Linked DNA regions of Homo sapiens: all the other regions are linked to region 1. Evidence: fine-mapped expression QTL. A gene starts in region 1. Each other region holds a variant in brackets. All regions are shown on one strand. Distances are between the middles of the regions. Region 1 holds the start of USF2 (upstream transcription factor 2, c-fos interacting). Region 2 holds the start of CD22 (CD22 molecule). Region 3 overlaps MAG (myelin associated glycoprotein).

Region 1 (8,175 bases):
CAAGTTAATTCCCGAGGCTCCTGCCACTGCATCTCAATCTGGAAGGTGACCAGGTGGGCAGGACCCACGTCTCCCAGATGACTCATTTTTTCTAGAACAGGGGCTTGGCTGCCAAAGAGGATACTTGATTTCGGCTTGTGGGGACAGTGGTGGACCCAGCATCTGGGCTTTATATAAAGGGCAGCTTTGTTGCCCTGTAAACACACAGACCATGGGTGGCCACTTCTTCCAGTAAGTTAGCTGGGGAGTTGGAAGTTTAGGTAAAACCTTTTGATTGACAAATGTTGGCGAATTACCATGCTGTTAAATGAAACATTGTTCTGCCACCCTGGGGCTGTGGGTGCCTGCGTGCACCCTCTGAAAAATCACACAGGAAGTGGGGTGGGGTCTCTGTGAAGCTGGTGTCCCCCAGCCTCAGGGATGCTGCAGAAATGGAATGAGGACCAACAGGGACTCAGATGTCCAAGGAAGCTCTACAGCGGAGAGGACGGCTTGGGAAGGAGGTCCAGGCCCAGGTCCCTCCGGAACCCAATGGGTATGGGGCAGCCTGGCTCCTGCCTCATCCCCCTTCTCCTGTTGATTGTGTCCTCACAGTGTATGCCGCCGGCAAAGCAGCCACCTCAGGTGTTCCCAGCATTTATGCCCCCAGCACCTATGCCCACCTGTCTCCCGCCAAGACCCCACCCCCACCAGCTATGATTCCCATGGGCCCTGCCTACAACGGGTACCCTGGAGGATACCCTGGAGACGTTGACAGGAGTAGCTCAGGTGAGGCCGGGGGAAGCAGGAACAGCTGGTGGGAGTGTGCTGGGCATCTGGACACTGAGGGGCAGGGGCTGGAAGGAAGAGTGTCTTGGGAGCCGAGGAGGGGCTCTGCTCCTGGTGCGCGGCCACTGACAGCCACTCTCCCCCAGCTGGTGGCCAAGGCTCCTATGTACCCCTGCTTCGGGACACGGACAGCAGTGTGGCCTCTGGTGAGAATCCATCGTCCCGAAGTTGGATGTGCCTGTAAGGGAGAGGGGTGGGCCAGGATCCATCCTCCCAAACCGACCACCACCCCCCTGTCCCTAGAAGTCCGCAGTGGCTACAGGATTCAGGCCAGCCAGCAGGACGACTCCATGCGGGTCCTGTACTACATGGAGAAGGAGCTGGCCAACTTCGACCCTTCTCGACCTGGCCCCCCCAGTGGCCGTGTGGAGCGGGGTAAGCAGGAGCCTTGGGGTCTGAGGGCTTTTAAGGTGGGGGGGTGAAACATGTCTCCCTGATACCTGCCGCAGGGACTCTTGGTGCAAACCCTGGACCCCGGGCTCCTCCAGCAGTCAGTGACACCCCCCTTCCCTGCAGCCATGAGTGAAGTCACCTCCCTCCACGAGGACGACTGGCGATCTCGGCCTTCCCGGGGCCCTGCCCTCACCCCGATCCGGGATGAGGAGTGGGGTGGCCACTCCCCCCGGAGTCCCAGGGGATGGGACCAGGAGCCCGCCAGGGAGCAGGCAGGCGGGGGCTGGCGGGCCAGGCGGCCCCGGGCCCGCTCCGTGGACGCCCTGGACGACCTCACCCCGCCGAGCACCGCCGAGTCAGGGAGCAGGTCTCCCACGAGTAATGGTGGGAGAAGCCGGGCCTACATGCCCCCGCGGAGCCGCAGCCGGGACGACCTCTATGACCAAGACGACTCGAGGGACTTCCCACGCTCCCGGGACCCCCACTACGACGACTTCAGGTCTCGGGAGCGCCCTCCTGCCGACCCCAGGTCCCACCACCACCGTACCCGGGACCCTCGGGACAACGGCTCCAGGTCCGGGGACCTCCCCTATGATGGGCGGCTACTGGAGGAGGCTGTGAGGAAGAAGGGGTCGGAGGAGAGGAGGAGACCCCACAAGGAGGAGGAGGAAGAGGCCTACTACCCGCCCGCGCCGCCCCCGTACTCGGAGACCGACTCGCAGGCGTCCCGAGAGCGCAGGCTCAAGAAGGTGAGGGCCGCCCTCCCTGGCGTCCAGACCGTCCCTGGGCCCCCAGCCGGTCCCCGCGGCTCATACCCTTCTTTCTTTCTCCCTTGCAGAACTTGGCCCTGAGTCGGGAAAGTTTAGTCGTCTGATCTGACGTTTTCTACGTAGCTTTTGTATTTTTTTTTTTAATTTGAAGGAACACTGATGAAGCCCTGCCATACCCCTCCCGAGTCTAATAAAACGTATAATCACAAGCTCTGGAGAGAACCATTTGTTCGGCCGCGCGGGGCGGGGGACCGGGGCTGCTCCCGTATGCGTCTGTAAAGCGCCGCGTCCCGGGGGCACCGGAGTCCGGGGCCGGGAGGAAGAGACCCAGCCTGGCCCGGCCCGCGCCCGCGCCGCCGGCCGGAGAACGTGCCCCGCGCAGCCGCCGCCCGCCTGCGTGCGCGCCCCGGCCCCGCCCAGGCGTGCGCATGCGCCCCGGCCCTCCGCCTTCGCGCACCGCAGGCTGGCCGTCCGGGACGCGCGCGCGCTCCTCTCCCCTTCCAGCCCATCCCCCCCAGCCCCCCACCGACCTACTTTACTGTCTCCAAACTCGGGCAGCCCACCTGGCCCCCGACGACCCCAGCCCCTGCACCGGGTACCCCGACGTTCCATCCAGACCCGCGTTTCACCAGGGCGGCGCGCGGCGACCTCGCGCCCCGCGGAGCCCCGGGCTCGCGCGCGCCCGCCCGCCCCCGGAGACAGACCAGCGCGCGCGCCCCGGGCCGCCTCCCCCCAGCGCGCGTCCGCCCCGGGGCTCGCGCCGCCGCCGCCGCCGCCGCCGCGCGCGCGCAGCTCAAGTAAAGGAGGAAAAAAAAAAGGGGGAAAAATAGAAAGCGGCGGCGGCTGCAGCAGCGATCCGCCGCCGGACTGGGCCAAGCCGGGCGGCGGCCGCGCGAGCCGGCGATCCAGGGCACTGGCGGCGGCCAGCCAGGGCGGGCCGTGTTCAAAAAAAAAAGTCGCGGCGGCGGCGGCTGCTCAGGGAAGGAGGCCTGAGGGCCGCGTGCAGCGGGCGGGCAGCTGGGTGGGCTGGGGGCGGCCGCGCGGCGTCCCGGAGCCTCGGGCCGCCCGGAGCCGGCGGGCGGGCGGAGGCGGAGGCGGCGGCGGCTGCAGCGGCTGCAGGAGCGGCGGCGGCTGCGGCGGCGGCGGCGGCATCTCCTCCTCACATGACCCCACTGTTTGTCCCCGTGATCAGCGCGAGCGGCTCCCGTATCTCCTCCGTCCCCTCCTGCCGCGCGGCGTGAGCGCCGGGCTCGGGGCCCCCCCGGCCGCCCGCCCCCTCCCCTCCCTCCCTCCCCTCCCCTCCCCTCCCCCCCGGGCCCCGCGCCCCCCCCGCCCCCGCCCCCCCCATGGACATGCTGGACCCGGGTCTGGATCCCGCTGCCTCGGCCACCGCTGCTGCCGCCGCCAGGTAAGATCCCCGGCCCGGCCGTGCCCCCGCGCCCCGGCCCCGGCCCCGGCCCCGCGGCCTGCAGGCCGGGGCCGCCATGATCCCGAGCGGCCGCGGGCCCGGCTCAAAATGGAGGCCGCCGGCGCGGGGGGGACCTGGCGCCTCCCGCCCCCGGCCCCCGGCCTCGGCGGCGCCCCCGGCCTCAGGCGCGGCCGGGTGGGACTGGGGCCCTGCAGCTGGGCGCGGGGGCGGGGGCGCGGGCGCGGGCCGCGCTGACCCTGCTCCCTCCTGTGCCCCTGGCAGCCACGACAAGGGACCCGAGGCGGAGGAGGGCGTCGAGCTGCAGGAAGGTGAGTGCTTGCCGGGCCGGCCGCGCCCGGGGAGGGCTGGGGGCGCTCGGCGCGGCCCTGACCGTGCCCCGACCCTCCTCGGCCCCAGGCGGGGACGGCCCAGGAGCGGAGGAGCAGACAGCGGTGGCCATCACCAGCGTCCAGCAGGCGGCGTTCGGCGACCACAACATCCAGTACCAGTTCCGCACAGAGACAAATGGAGGACAGGTGAGCGGCGGGCCGCGAGGGCGAACGGGCGGGCGGGCGGGCGCGCCGGGAAGGCTCGGACCTGGCCCCAGCGCCGGCCTCGCCGCTCTGCCGCCCCCTGCAGGTGACATACCGCGTAGTCCAGGTGACTGATGGTCAGCTGGACGGCCAGGGCGACACAGCTGGCGCCGTCAGCGTCGTGTCCACCGCTGCCTTCGCGGGGGGGCAGCAGGCTGTGACCCAGGTGGGTGTGGACGGGGCAGCCCAGCGCCCGGGCCCCGCCGCTGCCTCTGTGCCCCCAGGTCCTGCAGCGCCCTTCCCGCTGGTAGGTGCCCTGCCACCCCTGGGTGGGGGGGGGAGGGAGTGGAGAGGGGACACTGGCTCTGCTCTTGGGGAGCCCCGGGGGTGGGGCAGGTGTCGCCCAGCGGATGCTGCCTTCAGGCCTCAGGCTGCATGGGGCCAGATCCCTGTTGTGCACCGTGAAACCTGGGGACAGTGCTCTTGGAATTTTTTTTTCCCGCAAAATGGGAATGATGTGTCTTAAGAGGAAAGTTTCTTAGAGTGCGAAACGGATTTGCTCAGCAAGTGATCGCTGACCTCCCGCCATGTTCCAGGGCTGTTTGAAACACAGGACAGAATGCTACACGCAGAAGGAGTCCCCACTCCTGTTAATTGCAGAGAATGCAGTAAACCCCAAGCACAGCAATGAGGGGACGGGATGGAGGAACAGAGAAAGCTAAGGGTAGCCTCTGCCCTCCTACTCCCCAGGCTGTGATCCAAAATCCCTTCAGCAATGGTGGCAGTCCGGCGGCCGAGGCTGTCAGCGGGGAGGCACGATTTGCCTATTTCCCAGCGTCCAGTGTGGGAGATACTACGGCTGTGTCCGTACAGACCACAGACCAGAGCTTGCAGGCTGGAGGTGAGGAGTAGAAGTCAGATTGGCAGGTGGGGGAGGCAACGGGCCCAGCAGGGAGGGAAGCCCCCCCAGCCAGTTCTGACTTCACCCTGCCTTGCCACTAACCCCCCACTCTCCCTGCAGGCCAGTTCTACGTCATGATGACGCCCCAGGATGTGCTTCAGACAGGAACACAGAGGACGATCGCCCCCCGGACACACCCTTACTCTCCGTATGTGCAGGGGACACCTGGAGGGCCTGGTGTTGAAATGGAAGGAAGAGGGGTTTCTGGAGTAGAAGCTGGGCAGTTAGCATGAAGTGGGCACATGGTGTAATGTTTTTTTTCTTTGCCTGTTTCTGCTGCTCTAGTGCACATAAAGTATCATGTCTTTTGTTTTTGCAGATGGATTTACCTTGCAAAGATAATTTTCAAATCTAATACTTAGCAGATGCTTGGGCAAACAGCTCTGCGATAATACATGCCCCCTTTTTTTTTCCTCCTCTTGTAGAAAAATTGATGGAACCAGAACACCCCGAGATGAGAGGAGAAGAGCCCAGCACAACGAAGGTGAGGACAAGGTGTGGCTCCGGGTCCCCCTGACCACCACCCTCACAGGCTCAGCCAGCCCTGGAGTGTGGAGTGACAGAGAGAGAAGCCACTCCTGGGCAGGCCACAAGTGCTCCAGAGGGCTTTGCTGGACGCTGTAAAGGTAGAAAGTGAGCAACGAGGGGAGAGTACAGTGTCAGAAGTAGAGGGACAGGGAGTGTGAATTGGAACTGGCCATTTGTTGACCCGGCTGGTGATCTTGAATTCATGGCCCACATCTAAGATGGTGGACTTCACACTCCCATACGGATTGCCTGCCCCACTTGAAAAATGGGGCTGACCGGGCTCACGTGGGCTGACCTTTCCACGTGGCAGCTGTCATGCTCACATCCCGCACTCCCATGCCTGCCTGGCCTCCAGAAGTAGGTCTGTTCCCCCAGGGAGCACATCTGAGGGAGAAACTGCATGAAGTTCTGCCTCTGGCTACCTAAGGCCGGAGCATCCTGCCCTTTCCAGAAACACCAGGTCTCACCTCAGGTCATTTGGCCTTCAGCACTGTCCCGCCCCGCCTGTCAGTAGCCACTGCAGTGGGCACAGCACTGTGCAAGTGCCAGGAGAGTGCTTACACCCAAACAACCATCATTCAACAAATATTTACTGCCCGTGGGTTCTGGGCTGAGCGGCACAGGCCCTGTGCCAGGTCTGGAGTCTGGCCTGGAGCGTCAGGGAGGCTCAAAGGCCTGAGGGCTTATGTCTCATGGGTCTCATGGGACATTGATGGGGGGTGGGCTGGGGTGACGCTTCCCTAGGGAGAGGGGAGTGTGGGTCAGGTTACTTTGTGGGGTGCTGGTTTGGTTGTGGGAGAAGTTCCATTTAGAATGCCTCAGGAGGGAAGATCGGGAAGGCCTCGAATGCCCGAGTGAGGGGCTGAATGCTGAGTCCTAAAGGTGGTGATGGGACTGGGGTCTGTGGCCCAGGTAGTTGTGTTCTGAGCAGCTCCTCCCTGAGTTCAGGCGTTCATTCAGCGCGTGCATACTACGACCAGCCCCCCTTTTGCGTCCTCAGATATGGCAATGCAGCAGATGATAGGACAGACAAGGTCTCAGCTCTCTGTGCGCGTTCTGGTGGGAGAGATGGGAGTCACACAGCCGCATCAGGCAGTGCAGGCAGTCACAGGCAGGAGAGGAAAGCTGGGGAAGAAGGTGGCGGGTGATGGCGGCATGGTAGTGTGCTCTGAAGGGCTCTTCGAGAGGTGACATTGAAGCAGATCCCTGAAGCGACCTGAGGGAAGGGGCCTGTTGAGAACCTCAGGAGAGTCCCGGGCAGAGGGAAGAGCTAGAACACAGGCCAGGCCCTGAGCCAGGGCCGCCATGGTGTGTCTGCAGAAGAGCAGAATTCAGGAAAGGAAAGAGGAAGTTGGCGCAGTGGAGGGGGCTGCCCAGGCCAGATGGTGGAGGACCTTGGAAGAAGTCCCCAGTGTGGCTGTCTGGGCTCCTGTGGTTTTATTCCAGGGTGATGAGAAGCCAGCAGAGGGGTTTGGGTTGTGGAGGCTGTTGGCAAGAGTGGTGGGAAGGGGCTGGGAGGTAGGAGACCATACGACTGTCAGGCCTGAGACAGGGCAGGGGTTGGGGGAAATGTGGGGAGGACTCCAAGGCTGGAGAATAAGGGTTTCGTGCTGAACTCCCCTCCATGCTTGGAAGGGAAGGGGTGCATCTGAGCTTGGTTTTGAGATGCAGTGAGTTTGAGGGGCCCCCAGAGCAGCCCCAGCCCCACGACTTACCTGTGGTGGGGCGTCAGGGTGGTTCTTAATCTCCGTACCTGTCTTCCCTCTGTGAAATGGTGGAAGCACAGCCGCCCCGGGCACCTGGTGGGGATGCAGTGAGTCTTGGTGGCCACACAGTAAGGCGAAGAGAGGACTCAGAACCCTCCCACCCCACTCTCACCCCCGCCTCTCCCTTAGTTAATCTGACTCCAGGCAGCCTTGAAACTTTCTCACCCTGTGAAGCAGTCTTCATCACCTGCCCACTTCTCCAGCTCCGTCCTGTCTCCGCTTTCCTGACTTGCAGAGCATCTGCCCCAATCTGCTCATCCTCCCAGTACCCTCAGCCATCTGGCTCATGGCTCTACCAAAACAGCTCCACTTCCGGTCACCCGTGGTGACCCCATTGCCACATCCACTGGCCTCCTTTGCTGTCTGGGCTCCAAGCATCTGATGCTGCCTGTTTCCCTCTGTTCCTTTCTGGAATCTTCCTTTCTCCTCCATCCTCTCTGATTCTCCTGTGATCTTTGCCTTTCCTACCCCACTGTTAACAGTGAAATTTCCAGGGCTGTCCCAGTTCCAAGTGAGTAGATGGGGGTGCCGGGGAATCTGTGTTTTCCATCAGCTCTTCAGGTGATTTGTCATAGTGGACAAGCTTGAGAAACTGCTTTGGCTGCGAGTGTTTCTTTTTTTTTGAGAAGGGGGTCTCACTCTGTCACCCAGGCTGGAGTACAGTGGCACAATCACAGCTCACTGCAGCCTTGACCTCCCAGGCTCAAGCGATCCTCACACCTCAGGCTTCTGAGTGGCTGGGACCACAGGCAGGCGTCATCACATGGGGTAATTTTTTTTTATCTGTAGAGTGGAGGTCTTGCTATGCTGCCCAGGCTCGTCTTGAACTTCTGGCCTCAGGCAGTCCTCCGGCCTCGGCTACAGGCCTGAGCTGCCACACCCAGTCTTGCTGGTGTTTCATAAGGTCCGGCCCCTCCCGTCGGCCTCAGGTGTATGACTTGTGAGGCCCAGCGATGGGCTCGGAAGCTCTTGGTCAGTATCCCCCAAA
Region 2 (8,171 bases), 56 kb after region 1:
GTCTCAAAAAACAAACAAACAAAAAGAATGTTGTAACACATGTGATCCTTGGAGACTGGCTTTTTTCACTCTCTGTACCACTCTTCAGAATCGTCCAAGTTGTTGCCTGTATCCTCTTCATATCTCACTCCTTTTTATTGCTGCATAGTACTCCATGGCATGGATGTACCGTAATCTGTTAAGCCACTCACCTAGTGAAGGACGTATTGGTTGTTTCCAGTTTTTGGTTTTGCTTTTTTTTTTCTTGAGATGGAATCTTGCTCTTGTTGCCCAGGCTGGAGTGCAATGGCGTGATCTCGGCTTACCGCAACCTCTGCCTCCCAGGTTCAAGCAATTCTCCTGCCTCAGCCTCCCGAGTAGCTTGTGTTAGAAATGCTTGATTTTTGGTGCTGTAAAGAAATAGCACTTTAATGTAAATTTAATTTCTTCAGCAAGGCTAGTTTTACTTTCTGCAGAAAGGGTATACTCGCTAGCAGTTTTGCTACAAAAGTACACTGAACAAAGGAGACAGGGTCATTTATAACTTGATGCATCTACTTTATTGCTGTGTCTGGTTTCTATTGGCTGAAACGGGACCTCACATTCTGTATTTGTCTGGATTGGCTAGCAACTTAGAACTTTTTAAAAGAGGCAAAGGCAGAGGAGAACAAAGGAAGGAGAAAGTAACGTGGAATACTGAGAAAAGTAAAAACATTTCTAAATAAGGAAGAGGAACAGGCTTTGACTTAATGCTTTCTTGGACTAGTATAAGCATGCTAGGGCAAATCTTTAGGCTAAATTGTAGGATCTAAGAACATAAAGTACATTGATTTTTTTATTATGGCTAGTAGATATTTAAGAATGTTAGCACAGGTCTTTGAATAAATTTTGCTTCTAAGAGAAGTTACTATTTATTCTTAATTAGATGGGGAGGACAGTCTCTTTGAAAAGGAACTTCTACTTTACTATTTACACTGGGATTACCAGCATGTACCGCCACGACCAGCTCATTTTGTATTTTTAATAGAGACAGGATTTCACAATGTTGGCCAGGCTGGTCTCGAACTCCTGACCTCAGGTGATTGCCCTCCTTGGCCTCGCAAAATGCTGAGATTACTCCTGACCTCAGGTGATCGCCCACCTCGGCCTCCCAAAGTGCTGGGATTACAGGCGTGAGCCACCGTGCCTGGCCTGTTTCCAGTTTTTGGCTATTACAAACAAAGCTGCTGTGAATAATTGTGTGCAGGTTTTTATGTGGACATACGTTTTCATTTCTTAGGGATAAAATGCCCAGGAGTGCAATTGCTGGGTCATCTGGTAGGTATATTTTGTTTAGTTTTTCAGGAAACCGGCAAACTGTTTTCCAGAGTAGCTGGACCACTTTGCATCCCCACCAGTCGTGTGTGAATGTTTCAAGTTCACAGCATCCTCACCAGTGTTTGGTGTTGTCATTATTGGTTATTTAATTTTAGCTGTTCTAAAGCGGTATCTTGTCATGGGTTTCAATTTGCATTTCACTAATGGCTGGTGATGTGAGACATCTTTTCATGTGCTTATTTGCCTTCTATATACCTTCTTCAGGGAAAGGTGTCATCATGTCTTTTGCCTATTTTCTAACTGGACTGTTTTTTATTTATTTATTTATTTATTTATTTATTTATTTATTTATTTAGAGACAGAGTCTCACTCTGTCGCCCAGGCTGGAGTGCAGTGGTGGGATCTCAGCTCACTGCAACCTCCGCCTCCTGGGCTCAGGTGACTCTCCTGCCTCAGCTTCCTGAGCAGCTGGGATTATAGGCGCACACCACCATGCCTGCTAATTTTTGTATTTTTAGTAGAGATGGGGTTTTGCCATGTTGGCCAGGCTGGTCTTGAACTCCTGACCTCAGGTGATCCACTTTGCTTCCCAAAGTGCTGGGATTACAGGTGTGAGCCATCGTGCCCAGCCTGATTTTTATTTTATATATATATATATGTACACACACACACACAATATACATACACACACATATATGCACACATATGTGTGTTAAAGCTGTATGTAAAGCTGTTATATATTACATATATACTACATATATAACAGCTTTGCTGAGATATAATTCACATACCATAAAACACACCCATGTAAAATGTCCAATTGAATGGTTTTGGGTCTATTCACTGAATTATGCAACCATCACCACAACCAGTTTTAGAACATTTCATCACCCCAAAATAATCTCACATCCATTAGCAGTCACTCTTCATTTCCTCTTACCTTTCCCACCCCACCCCAGCCCTACGCAACCGCTACATCTACTTCTGTCTCTACAGATTTGCCTTTTCTGAATATTTCACGTGAATGGAATCATACAATATGTGACATTTTGTGATTGGCTTCTTTCACTTAATGTTTTCAAAGTTCATCCATATCCAGGCGCCGTGGCTCACGCCTGTAATCCCAGCACTTTGGGAGGCCAAGGCGGGTGGATCACCTGAGGTCAGGAGTTCAGGACCAGTCTGGCCAACATGGTAAAACCCCGTCTCTACTAACAATATGAATAATTAGCTGGGCGTGGTGGCGGATGCCTGTAATCCCAGTCACTCAGAAGGTTGAGGCAGGAGAATCGCTTGAACCTGGGAGGCAGAGGTTGCAGTGAGCCGAGATGGCACCACTGCACTCCAGCCTGGGCAACAAGTGAAACTCGGTCTCGAAAAAAAGTTCATCCATGTTGTAGTATCTATCAGTACTTCATTCCTTTTTATTATCAAATAATATTTTATTGTTTAGGTCTCCCATATTTTCTTTATTCATTCATCTCTTCATGGACATGTGGGTTGTTTCTGCTTTTTGGCTTTCATGAATAATGCTGCTGTAAACATTTGTGTTCAAGTTTCTGGGTGAACATGTTCTTATTTCTCTTGGTTATATATGTAAGAGTGGAGATGCAGGAGTGTATGGTAATTCTATGCTTAATCTTTGGAGGAACTGTTTTGAGACTTTTTTCCAGAGTGGCTGGACAATTTTATATTCACACTAGCAATATATAAATGATTTAGTTTCCATACATCTTTCCAGTATTTGATACTATCTTTTATTTTAGCTGTTCTTATAGATGTTAGTAGTGATATCTCATCATGGTCTTAACCTGTCTAAAGGCTAGTGATGTTGAATATCTTTTTAGATAATTATTTTCTATCCATATATCCCCTTGGGTGAAATTTCTCTTTATATCTTTTGCCAGTCTTCTAATTGGATGATTTGATTTTTTTATGTAGTGTTTCTATGTTGAATTTGAGAGTTCTTTATATATTTGTTCTAGATAGGAGTCCTTTGTCAGATATGTGGTTTGCAAATATTTTCTCTTAGTCTGTAATTTGTCTTTTCATTCTCTTAACTAGGTCTTTTACAGAGCAAAAAAAAATTAATTTTGATGAAGTTGGATTGATTTTTTTAGGGATCATGCCTTTGGTGTCATGTCTAAGAACACTTCATCAAGCTCTAAGTCTCACAGATTTTCTCCTATGTTATCTTCCAGAGGTTTTTTGTTTTTATTTTATTTTACTTTTTAATTAAGACAGAGTTTCGCTCTGTTGCCCAGGCTGGAGTGCAGTGGCAGGATCTCAGCTCACTGCAACCTCCGCCTCCCAGGTTCAAGTGATCCTCCTGCCTTGGCCTCCTGAGTAGCTGGGACTACAGGCACGCACCACCCAACTGGCTAATTTTTTGCATTTTTATGTGGTTGCTTTCGAGAATTTTCTCTGCCTCTTGTTTTTAGAAGTTTGACTATGATGTGTCTTGGCATGAATTTCTTTGGGTTTATCCTGTTTGTGATGCGCTCAGCTTCTTGAATCTGTAGACATATGTTGTGCGTGTGTGTTGTCAAATGAAGATAATTTGCAGCCATTACTTCTTGGAATATTTTTTTAAGGCCCACCCTCCTTTTCCTCCCCTTCTGGGACTTCAATGACAAAATGTTAGATCTTCTTTTATTATAGTTACTCATGTCCTTGAGGCTTTGTTCCATTTTCTTTCATCTATTTTCTTTCCATTGTTCAGAATGGGTAATTTCTATTGTTATACGTTTTGTTTCACTGCTTCTTTCTTCTATACTCTCCATTCTGCTATTGAGCCCATCCATTATGGTTTTTATTTCAGCTCTTGTATTTTTTAGTTGTATTTTTTAGTTCTAAAGTTTCCATTTGGTTCTTCTTTATATTTTCTATTTCTTTGCTGATACTTTTTATTATTTTATTTGTTTCAAGCACATTTATAATTTCTCAGTGAAACACTTTTATGATGGCTGCTCCAAAATCTTTGTCAGATAATTCTAACATCTGTGTCGTCTTGATGTTTGTGTCTGTTAATTATCTTTTGTTATTCAGTTTGAGAATGCCTGATTCCTAGTATGACAAGTGATTTGCCATTGAAGTCAGGATATTCTGGGCACTGTGTTATAAGATTCTGGATCTTCTTTAAATATTTTGTTTTAGTGGGCTTCCCTTTATACTGCTCCAGCGAAATAAAGTAGGGCACTGCCTGATTGCTTCCAGACAGGGATAAAAGTCCAGGTTCTCCATCCAGCCTTTCCTGAACCTGGGGGGTTGGGAGAGATGAGGCCTCCATGTTATTGTTTGGTAAGGGTAGAAGTTCAGGTTCCCCACTAGGAATCCATGACAACTCCCTGGCTGGGAGTGGGAGGGATGCTTCATTACTGCTCCCTATGTGGCTTTCACTGACACTGTGTGTGGCAGAGAGAGGGGGGTGCTTGTTACCACTGAGTGGTGGCGAAAGTCCCAACTCTCCACCAGGCCCCCTTTGACACTACTCCAATGGGGCCGGGTGGAATGCCTCATTTCTGCATTGGGGTGGCAGTGGATGTCCAGGCTGCCCACATGGTTTCCACCAACACCACATCGGGGGAGGGTGATCCCAGTGGGGAGGAA[T/G]GTCCCAGCTCCAACTCTAGCATCACTCTGGCTGAGTATGGGAGTGGCCTAGGGTTCTTTGTTACAGCCTGGTGAAGGTGAATGTCTAGGTTTTCCATCCGGCCTTTGCTGACAAGGGTGATGATGGAACTTGGATGGAGCGGAGCAGGTATGGACTAAAAGAGCTCTGTCTTTCTAGGATGCCCCTTTCCTCGTTCTTTGGCTAGAAAAGCATAGTTTTGCTAGAACTTGTTCTGTTGGGACTTTTTCTTGTTTGTGCCCCTTGGCATTTTCAGTTGTTGGCTTCTCCAGTATTCAGCCTGAGATATATGAGGCAAAGAGAAATCCCAGGGAATTCACCACCATTCCTTAAGTCCCGAGGTTCCTAACCAGTCTGCTTCTCTCCATCTTTCAGTCTTCTTATGCTTGTCTTGTCACGTTCAAGGTTTTCAGTTATACTTGGCAGAATAAATAAATACATCTACTCCATCTTTCCAGAACATCACTGCTTTTTGTTCATTTTATTTATTTATTATTTACTGAGACAAGGTCTTACTTTGTTGCCTGGGCTGGAGTGCAGTGGTGCTATCATGGCTGACTGAAGCCTTGAACTCCCAGGCTCAAGCGATCCTCCTGCCTCAGCCTCCCAAGTAGTTTGGACCACAGGCATGGGCCACCATGCCCAGCTACTTTTCATTTTTTGCTTTTGTTGACTAGCCCCACAGAGTTTTGCTGTGTTGTTCAGGTTGGTCTCAAACTTCTGGCCTTAAGCAATCCTCTTGCCTTGCTCTCCCAAAGCGTATTACAGGCATAAGTCACCACACCCAGCCCTATCGGTGCTTTTGGAAGAAGGTGTTCTTCCCTCTCTCTGTTTCCCTCCCTATGGCCAGCTGCCCATAGAGGGCAGTGGTGCTGGAGTGAAGACCTCTCAGCGCATCCCTCTTCATCTGTAGGATGTGCATGGCTTCCAATGCTGTCTGTTCTGCTCCTGAGACACTCGCTGGCTACAGGATTATAAAGGTGATGAGGTTTCAGCCTAAAGACTCTCCATTCAATAACACTTCCTACAAGATATCTTTTTTGTTTTTTTGAGACAGGATCTGGCTCTGTCACCCAGGCTGGAGTGCCACAGCGCGATCTGCTCACTGCAACCTCAGCCTCTCGGGCTTAAGTGATTCTCCTGCCTTAGCCTCCTGAGTAGCTGGGACCACAGGCGCCCGCCACCACACCCAGCTAATTTTTGGATTTTTTTTTTTTTTTTTTTTAGTAGAGATGGGGTTTTACCATGTTGCCCAAGCTGGTCTTGAACTCCTGAGCTCAGGCAATCCACCCGCCTTGGCCACCCAAAGCGCTAGGATTACAGGCATGAGCCACCATGCCCAGTCCTACAAGATATCTTTTCTTTTTCTTTCTTTCTTTCTTTCTTTCTTTTTTTTTTTTTGAGACAGAGTCTCACTCTGTCACCCAGGCTGGACTGCAGTGGTGTGATCTCTTCTCACTGCAGCCTCCGCCTCCTGGGCTCAAGTGATTCTCCTGCCTCAGCCCCCTGAGTAGCTGGGACTACAGGCGCCTGCCAAAACACTTAGCTAATTTTTTGTATTTTTAGTAGAGACGGAATTTCACCATGTTCGCCAGGCTGGTCTCGAATTCCTGACCTCAAGTGATCCACCCGCCTCAGCCTCCCAAAGTGTTGGGATTCCAGGCATGAGCCACCGCACCCGGCCGAGATATCTTTTTCCTCCTCAATATCTATGTGCTCCTCCCTCAACCCTTGGGGGCTTCAGTGTAGGTGGTCAGATTCCCCACCATTTATGCCTATGATGAAAAGAGTGGAAATGGTAATAACTGGATGGTGTCACTAAACTACAAATACTTTCAGGTAGGCCTGTGCCTTTTTCAGCGGGCTGCAGTTCTCCTGCTTGGCTTGAGTCATTCGCATTTCCTGAGAGCTGGGTAGAGGGGGAGTTGTGGAGGAGCCCATTCTGAAACTGATCTGATATTGCAAACCCATACACGGAAAGGAAGAACTGCCCATACGTATTCGAGTCTTCCAATCTGACTCCGAGCCCGCATCCCCCTCAATCGTCTCTTTTCCCCACTCCCCAGATCACGGTGCTGCTTGGTCCCCCTCAGAGCCATAGAGAAGCAGGGGGTGTGGCCATGGAGGGGAAACCTCTGTCACCAGAGACTTTACTGTACTTCTCCTTTTGCTCTCAGATGCTGCCAGGGTCCCTGAAGAGGGAAGACACGCGGAAACAGGTAAAAATCATTTTGCTTTTATTTTGCATTCAACAAGCAAGTTATTACGGAACAGCAGTTATGGGCCAGGCATACCTCCCAGAGCTGGGAACACAGTGGGGACCTCCCTGGCTCTCTCTTACCGGTGTTACAACAGGTTGTAGACAGACCCCTGTCTTGAGCATCCTCCTTGCCAGGCCTGCTGAGTCTTCTGAGAGTAGGGTAGGTTATTGGATGCCCAGGAGGGAAGAAGGAGCCAGGGAGGTCAGCCCCAAGGTTCTGCAAGGCCCTCAACAGGCCTGGACTGAGGAGGTCTGGACAGCATGGCCCTGTCCTGAGCCTCTGTGCATAATAACTGCTGTCCCTAACCTCCACCCCACCCTCAGCCTTCCAATTCCCGGGCCTGGGGCCCTACTCCTGTGCTCCAGAGACTCCTGGAGCTCCTTGAGGCAGCACACAGTCCTGCTCTGGAGGCGCCCATCTCCCACTCATGCTGGGATGCTCCAGCCCGTCCCAGAGCAGGTTGTGGCTGGAGGGTGCTGGCAGAGGAGGGACAATGGCCCGGCTCCTGGAGGCAAGTGTTGGCTGCAGGGAACGGAGTCTAGTCCTTGCCACAGCCCTTGTTACCCCTTAGGTAACCTTAAGGGGATTTCAAAGAACTCTGGCTCTGCAACCCTGCTAAGTTTTTTATGGAACATGTAAAATAGATCCCATGGCCAAAGAAGTATGGACAATGTATTATACTATACTCTAATCCCCATGTCTAGAGATTAATGGTGTAGATAGAGTTTACTGAAAGGTTTTTAAAGTCCTGCAGTAAAGAATCTTACTTAAGCCAGGTGCGGTGGCTCACGCCTGTCATCTCAGCACTTTGGGAGGCCAAGTTGGGGGGATCACCTGAGGTCAGGAGTTTGAAACCAGCCTGGCCAACATGGTGAAACCCCATCTCTACTAAAACAAACAAACAAACAAACAAATCAGACGGGTGTGGTGGCACATGCCTATAGTCCCAGCTACTCAGGAGGCTGAGGCAGGAGAATCACTTGAAC
Region 3 (8,175 bases), 45 kb after region 1:
AGGACCTTTGAGGCATGAGCCCCTCCCCAGGGCCCTCTAGCATGAAAGGGATTGCCCTGGCACGAGGAGGCTCCGTGCCAATCAGTCAGTGCAAGGATGCCCCGGCTGTGTGACTACATTGACTGTCATCCCAGCATGTCTCCAAAGTTCTCAGGTGTCGTCACCACCACCCATAGCCCTAAGGGCGCCTGGGTCTTTTCTGTCCTCAGATCGACTGATGTGGGCCAAGATCGGGCCTGTGGGCGCCGTGGTCGCCTTTGCCATCCTGATTGCCATCGTCTGCTACATTACCCAGACACGCAGGAAGTGAGTGCCAGCTGGGGCTGATCTGGGGATGGGAGTCTCCAAAAAGGGGACCTGGTGGGAGATGGAGGCCCAGAGTGGGTGGGGGAAGGCAGCACCATAAGTGTAGAGAAGGCAGATTCTGTTCTGGGAATGTTCAGCTGGACAGAGGAGAGAGGGTTCCTGTTAATTCCAGCCCCTGCTGGTCAGGGGCACACCAGGGCCTGGGCTGAGCCCTTTACACACATCATTTGAGACCTGTTTGCCCACATTCTATTTTGACAGCCTCCCTATCTCTAGGAACTCTCCCCTACACACTCCAGTGTGGTGGGGAAAGCCCAGGTACCCCACTGCAGCCACAGCAGCAGGTCCACTTGACGCCAGAAGCCCCAAAGATTACACACATCTGGGGCAAAAAAAAAATAGGCCTTGGCCGGGCGCGTTGACTCACGCCTGTTATCCCGCACTTTAGGAGGCCAAGGAGGAAGGATTGCTTGAGGCCAGGAATCTGACACCAGCCTGGGCAACATAGCAAGACCACATCTCTAAAAAAAATTTTTTTTTAATTAGCCAGGCATGGTGGCACACACTGTAGTCCCAGCTACTTGGGAGGCTGAGGTGGAACGATTCTTGAGCTCAGGAATTAGAGGCCAGCCTGGGCAACATAGGGAGACCCCATCTACAAAAAAACAAAAAAATTAGCTACTAGTGGCACGTGCCTGTTGTCCCAGCTACTCGGGAGGCTGAGGAGGGAAGATCGCTTGAGCCTGGGAGGTTGAGGCTGTAGTGAGCTATGATTTCACCACTGTACTCCAGCCTAGGTGACAAAGAGAGACCCTGTCTCTAAAAACAAACAAACAGACAGACAGACAGACAGAAAGCCTCTCCAGCCCCAAACCATACCCACCTGGCCCAACTCAGCTGCAGCCGTGTTTCTTTCTTGTGGCACACACACATCAGCTGTCCTGAGAAATAAATTAACCCCTCTGCTCCACATCCTGGTGGCAAGAGGGGCAGAAAGACCCAGAGCCTATGAGGGGAACCTGGAGAATCCAGGTGGGGGTCCTGAAAAACGGCAGAGCTCAGGGGCCAGGTGGCTCGTCCCCAGCCGGGCAGGGGCCACAGAGGTGGGAAGGATGGGCTGTGTGGGTAGGAGAGGCTGGTGGTTCTGAAAGGGCTGCTTGCCACATCTTAGAGATGGGTGGGAGAACTCTGAGGTCCCCTGAGCCAAACTCCTAAAACACGTGGGGGTGCAGAAAGGGAGGGCAGAGAGAGGTCTGACGAGTCCTGCCCTGCAGAAAGAACGTGACAGAGAGCCCCAGCTTCTCGGCAGGGGACAACCCTCCCGTCCTGTTCAGCAGCGACTTCCGCATCTCTGGGGCACCAGAGAAGTACGAGGTAAGGACCAGGCTCCAGGCTGGCCTGGGAACCTGGATGCCAGGGACACTGAAGGCCTGGGAAAGGCCTGTGAGGCCAAGGGGCAGGGGAGTGGGAGCGGCCTCTCACAGGAGGAGAGGAAGGACATTCCAGGGCTGGGTTGGACCTGGAGGCTGGGGAGGAGGTGCCCAGGCCGAAGCTGTGTAGGGGGCGATGGGACGTGGGGCCTAAGGGCCCCCTCCCCTCCCTGCCTGTGTCTGTGACTGCATTTCCTTCTCCAATAGTCCAAAGAGGTTTCTACCCTGGAATCTCACTGAGTGCCCCAGGAGGTAGGTTCCGGGGGCCTCAGTGTGCCCTCCTCTGGGCCCTCCTTGGGCCCTGGGGTTGGCGTGCATGTCCGTGTGTCCCTGTCAGGCGTCAAGGTGGTCTCTGGTGATGTCCGGGCCTGCCCGGCAGTGCTGGCCTTGTCTAGTCTGTCCTGTTGCAGCTCCCTTCTGTCTGTGGCCACCGTCCTGTGTGTCCAAATTCCTGTGGCTAGGGGGTGGAGGGAGGGGTGGGAAGCGTGGGGGGAACCCACATGTCACCTGCAGGACCTCCCAGATTGAGGGCGGACCCATGCAGGACCCATGGGGGGGCACGTACCAAACCAGGTATTTCCAGGAATTTGGAAAGATGGGGTCCTGACTAGGTGGTTTTCACCCAAAAAGGTATTAGGGGTTACATTGTGTGCCCTCAAAACTCCTATGTTGAAAGCTTCCTGGACGGGGGCAGTGGCTCACACCTGTAATCCCACAACTTTGGGAATCTGAGGCGGATGGATCACTTGAGGTCAGGAGTTTGAGACCAGCCTGGCCAACATGGTGAAACCCTGTCTCTACTAAAAATACAAAAAATTAGCCAGGCGTGTTGGCAGGTGCCTGTAATCCCAGCTACTTGGGAGGCTGAGGCAGGAGAATTGCTGGAACCCAGGAAGTGGAGGCTGCAGTGAGCAAAGATCGAGCCATTGCAATCCAGCCTGGGTCTCAAAGAAAAAGAAGAAGAAGAAGCAGCTTCCTGGAGAAACTGAATTTGTAGGCAAATTTCAAGTTCAGCAATGATTAACACTGGCAGAAGCTCCAGAGTGGGACCTGGTGACCGCAGGGCTCGCTGGGCCTGCGGTCCTTGAGAAAGGAGGTTCTCGCAGGGATTTATTTGGGACTGAACTCAGGAGCTCTGAGGGTGCAAACGCTCTGTCCTCTGCATTGGGAAAAGGCAGGGAGCAGGACCCTGCTAATGGGCGGTTTCCCCTCTTAGAGCGAGAGGCGCCTGGGATCTGAGAGGAGGCTGCTGGGCCTTCGGGGTGAGCCCCCAGAGCTGGACCTGAGCTATTCTCACTCGGACCTGGGGAAACGGCCCACCAAGGACAGCTACACGCTGACGGAGGAGCTAGCTGAGTATGCTGAAATCCGGGTCAAGTGAAGGAGCTGGGGGCAGCCTGCGTGGCTGACCCCCCTCAGGACCCTCGCTGGCCCCCACTGGCTGTGGGCTCCCTTCCTCCCAAAAGTATCGGGGGCTGGGGCAGGAGGGGAGTGAGGCAGGTGACAGTGAGGTCCTGGGGGCCTGACCTCCCCCTCCTTCCCAGCTGCCCCTCCCTGCCAGCACCCCCACGCCCTCATTACGGCTCCTCTCTAACCTCCTTTACCCTCATCTGTCTGGAGGGGAGCTCTGTCTGTCCGTGTTATTTATTGCTACTTCCTGCCTGGTCTCCTGCCCCCACACCTGGCCCTGGGGCCTGTACAAAAGGGACATGAAATAAATGCCCCAAAGCCAAATGCCAGTCTAGATCCTGATGCTTTCTGACCCGCCTTTGGGCAGCCTGCCATCCCACCGTCTACAGAACGATGACAGAATTTCTCCTTGCCCTCGGCTGAGCCTGGTATGCAGGCAAGGGCCCAGGGATTTTAGCCTTGAACCCAGGGCCAGTGGCCACTAAGTTGCTCCCACTCTGAGCTGGTAGCTGCGAGCTGGGTCTGGTTTGACTTATGGATGATTTCACATAAAAATCCTCATGCTGGTTTTTGCCGCAGTCAGATCAGCTGACAGCACCAGGCTTGCACTTGTACGTGGACATGACTTGCTGAAAGGGAGGGTCCTGTGCACTGGCCGCAGTCCCCACCACTCCCTATTGTCCCACACCTGGCCGGCTTCCTGCACTGAGATTACCTCCTGGTCCCTGCAGCTTGGAGTGCGAGCCACAGATCTAGGTCTCACCAGCCCGTGTTGGTTTCACCACCATCTCTCACATTCATGCTGCAATTTGCAGCGTCAGCCTTTATACATCACTACATTCAGTTCCAGAAACATTAATTAAGCACCAGCTGTATACTGAGCCCTTTCTAGAGGCTCAGGCTGTCCTGAGAAGGGTCTCCTAGGACAGCTCTGTGACGATGAGAACACTGAGACTTAGAGAAGTTAGGTGATTTTCCCAGGGTCCCAGAGCTCGGAAACGGTGTGTCCAGGCCATGGGGTTGATGCTTCTGATTCAAATGCACTCTTTCTTTTCTTTTCCCTTCCTC[C/CCTCT]CTCTCTCTCTCTCTCTCTCTTTTTTTTGATGGAGTCTGTCTCTGTCACCCAGGCTGGAGTGCAGTGGTGCAATCTCAGCTCACTGCAACCTCCGCCTCCTGGGTTCAAGTGATTCTCCTGCCTCAGCCTCCCAAGTAGCTGAGATCACAGGCACTCGCCACCACGCCCGGCTAATTTTTGTATCAAATGCACTTTTTCTATAATACCTGTCAGGAAGTTAAAAAGGGCCAGAGTGTCTGGTATAAATGGGATTGATAACTAACAGTTGTTGAACGCTTTCTATGATTCTACCCAGTTTGCATTAATTAATCTCCATTAACCTCATTTACCTTCCCTAATAACTATGACAATGGTTCTCAAAGTGTGGTCCCTAGGCAGCAGCATCAGCAGCACCCAGGAACTTGCTAAAAAGGCAAATTTTCAGCCCCCACCCTAGACTTCAGGAATCAAAAACCCTGAGGTGGGGCCCAGGAATCTGTGTTTTGAGAAGTCCTTGGTGGATTCTGATGCACGTGCACGTTTGAGAACAAGCAGCTGAAGCATGGAGAAGTTACATCAGTTCTGTGGTCCCCAATTGTTAGCAGTGGAGCCCAGATTTGAGCCCCGACCACTGGCTTCGGAGGCCACACTCTGACGCTGTGCTACACGGCCATCTTGGTGAGAACCAACAGCTGCTCACAGAGCCCGGGTGCTGGAGGAGCAGTAAGGTTAAGCTGTGGGCTGCGGGCAGTGAGGGCAGGGTTTCCTAGACGGCAGCTCTCCCTGATTTTTTTTTGTTTTTTGTTTTTTTTGTTTATTTTTTGAGATGGAGTCTCACTCTGTCATCCAGTCTGGAATGCAGTGGCACGATCTTGGCTCACTGCAACCTCTGCTTCCCAGGTTCAAGCACTTCTTCTGCCTCAGCCTCCCAAGTAGCTGGGACTACAGGCGTGTGCCACCACACCCAGCTAATTTTTGTATTTTTAGTAGAGACGGGGTTTCACCATTGTTGGCCAGGCTGGTCTCGAACTCCTGACCTCAGGTGATGCGCCCAACCCACCCTCCCAAAGTGCTGGGATTACAGGCATGAGCCCCTGTGCCTGGTCTCTCCCTGCATTTTGAAGAAGGCAGAGGACACAGCACAGAGACCAAAATAAAGGCCTAGAGGCAGGAATAAACAAACCAGGTCGGGAGGGGAGGTGACATGGGGCTGCTTGGCTGGGATGGGAAGTCCACATGCAGGAGGAAAGGAGACGTGTGGGGGGCCGGGCTGTGGGAAGGGAAACCCTCTGTGGGGCCTGTCCAAGCTGGGAGGGTGCATGCCCTTTCTTCACGGAGCTCACAGTCTTGCAGGGACAAGGACATGAAAGAATCTCATGCACAATATCAAACTGCAACTGTGACACCGGCTTCCAAGGAGAAGCTCAGAGTTTTTACAGCAGGGGTCCCCAGTGCTATACTGCACACCCAGATACTGGTCTGTGGCCTGTTAGGGACTGGGCTGCACAGCAGGAGGCGAGCAGCCAGCGAGCAAGCATGACCACCTGAGTCCTGCCTCCTGTCAGATCAGCAGCGGCTTTAGATTCTCATAGCAGCACGATTCTTATCGTGAACTGTGCACGCAAAGGATCTAGGTTGCACACTCACAGATGGTGCCTGATGAACTGTCACTGTCTCCCATCACCCCCGGATGGGAACGTCTAGTTGCAGGGAAACAAGCTCAGGGCTCCCACTGATTCTACATGATGGTGAGTTGTATACTTACTTCATTATATATCACAATGTAATAATAATAGAAATAAAGTGCACAATAAATGTAATGTGCTTGAATCATCCCCAGCTCCCTCCCCACTCTCAGGCCCATGGAAAAATTGTCTTCCATGAAACCAATCCCTGGTGCCAAAAAGGTTGGGGACCGCTGTGTGACTTAAGGTCACAGGGGGCAGGGGAGGCTTCCCTATGGAAGGAAACTCACACATGTGTGAAGGCCCCAAGTGGGAACATGTTTAGCAAAATTCCAGGAGCTGAAGCAAGGCCAGAGAGGCATCGGATGGGGCTGGGGATACACAGGGGCCTCTCAGCAGCCGGGAGGGAAGCCTCTTCCAGATCCCCTGCATACATGCTCACCAGCCCTGCCCTGACACACCTGTCCCCTGACGACAGACTCTGGCTCCAGCAGGTCTGGCCTGGGAGGACTTCACCCAGAGGAGCAAAACATTGTCAATAACCAGGGATCGGGGAGTAACTCACGCTGCCCAAAGTGCAGCTTGAGGGCCCTGGGAGCCACTGTGACGCTACTGTGTATGCTTCATTTAGTATGCACCGGAACAACAGGAAACCAGAATGCCGCACCAGCTTCGGATGAGGCTAAGTCAAAATAAATAAATAAGAAAGAAATCAATCAACTGAACTGATTTTAAAAATGTATTAAATAAACATGTTGCAGGTGGCTCCTGAAGGTTGTAGGCAAACCTCTAAAGTTTGGGAAACAATGAGGGAATTTGACACAAAGACCATCCTTAGGAGGGACCGGCACTCAGCCATGGCGAACGTGTAGGACCGAGCCAGGTGCGGTGGCTCATGCCTGTAATCCCAGCACTTTGGGAGGCTGAGGCTGGTGGATGGCTTCAGCCCAGGAGTTTGAGACCAGCCTCAGCAACATAGCGAGACCCTGTCTCTACAAAAAATACAAAAATTAGGCAGGTATGGTGGCATGCGCCTGTAGTCCTACCTACTCGGGAGGCTGAGGTGGGAGGGATAGTTTGAGCCCAGGAAATGGAGTTTGCAGTGAGCCGAGATTGAACCATTGCACTCCAGCCTCAGCAACAGAGTGAGACCCTGTCTCAAAAAACGAACAAACAAACCAGTAGGACCTGAACTCAAGTTCACTCTCTCAGACTTTCCCCACCCAGCTCCTGGACCCCACCAGAATTCAACACATGCTCACTGAGCACCTCTGTGTGCCAGGCCTATGCTGGGCCCCAGGGTCACAGCAGTGCCCAAAAAGAATCACTCTGTGACCTCCCAGAGCTGACATTCTGCAGAAGAGACAGACAACGATCAGAAAGACAAGCAAACACATGACCGCACATCTGACAGTGAAGGAACTGCAGAGGGGTGCAAGGTCAGGCTGTGCTGGGTCAGGCTGCCATTTCAGAAAGAGAAGTCATTTGACTTGAGACCAGAAGGAAGTAAGGGAGGGAGCTCTGTGGGTTCCTGGGGAATGTGGGTCCAGGGAAGGCCAAAATCGAGTGCAAAGGCCCCTGGCGAGAATGTACTTGTTACCTTCATGGAACAAGAAGGAAAGAAGCATGCTTGAGTGGAGTGATGGAGCCAGAGTGGTTGCCCAAGGAAGCTCGATTACACAGGGCCTTGTAGGCCACAGGCAGGACTGGGGCTTGTTTGTTTGTTTCTTTGTTTGTTTGTTTTGAGGCAGAGTATCGCTCTGTTGCCCAAGGAAGCTCGATTACACAGGGCCTTGTAGGCCACAGGCAGGACTGGGGCTTGTTTGTTTGTTTCTTTGTTTGTTTGTTTTGAGGCAGAGTCTCACTCTGTTGCCCATGCTGGAGTGCAGTGGCACAATCTCAGCTCACTGCAGCCTCTGCCTCCCGGGTTCAAGCAATTTTCCTGCCTCAGCCTCCTGAGTAGCTGGGATTACAAGCATGTACCACCACGCCTGTCTAATTTTTATATTTTTAGTAGAGACGGGGTTTCACCATGTTGACCAGGTTGCTCTTAAACTTCTGACCTCAGGTGATCCACCCGCCTCAGCCTCCCAAAGTGCTGGGAATACAGGCGTGAGCCATCCCGCCCAGCAATGGAATTTAATCCTAGGTTTTTTTTTTTTTTTTTTTTTTGAGATGGAGTCTCGCTCTGTCACCAAGGCTAGAGTGCAGTGGCATGATCTCGGCTCATTACAACCTCCGCCTCCCGAGTTCAGGTGATTCTCCTGCCTCAGCCTCCCAAGTAGCTGGGATTACA

The links. PIP is the estimated chance that this variant, and not a neighbour inherited with it, causes the effect.
Region 2: its variant is fine-mapped to the expression of USF2 in whole blood (INTERVAL, PIP above 0.99).
Region 3: its variant is fine-mapped to the expression of USF2 in whole blood (INTERVAL, PIP above 0.99).

Annotation. Positions count from the first base shown.
Region 1 is chr19:35,265,765-35,273,939 of GRCh38, forward strand. USF2 (upstream transcription factor 2, c-fos interacting) reads left to right here and starts at 3,198. Exons shown (of 10, transcript NM_003367.4): 1 at 3,198-3,399; 2 at 3,682-3,728; 3 at 3,817-3,935; 4 at 4,039-4,239; 5 at 4,683-4,833; 6 at 4,954-5,041; 7 at 5,319-5,377. The coding sequence starts at 3,338. LSR (lipolysis stimulated lipoprotein receptor) reads left to right here. Exons shown (of 10, transcript NM_205834.4): 6 at 595-768; 7 at 915-974; 8 at 1,072-1,203; 9 at 1,345-1,970; 10 at 2,060-2,200. The coding sequence ends at 2,095. RefSeq lists silencers at 1,979-2,058, 2,139-2,208, 2,309-2,458, 3,617-3,806, 3,947-4,266 and an enhancer at 4,554-5,293.
Region 2 is chr19:35,322,088-35,330,258 of GRCh38, forward strand. CD22 (CD22 molecule) reads left to right here and starts at 7,100. Exons shown (of 14, transcript NM_001771.4): 1 at 7,100-7,143. RefSeq lists a silencer at 1,362-1,421 and enhancers at 7,677-7,726, 7,797-7,846. The variant T/G (reference allele first, on the strand shown) is at 4,906.
Region 3 is chr19:35,310,338-35,318,512 of GRCh38, forward strand. It overlaps MAG (myelin associated glycoprotein), which reads left to right. Exons shown (of 11, transcript NM_002361.4): 9 at 210-306; 10 at 1,581-1,680; 11 at 2,953-3,470. The coding sequence ends at 3,117. Among named protein-coding and RNA genes, the nearest start is that of CD22, 15 kb to the right of the region's middle. RefSeq lists enhancers at 1,109-1,610, 1,611-2,110. The variant C/CCTCT (reference allele first, on the strand shown) is at 4,215.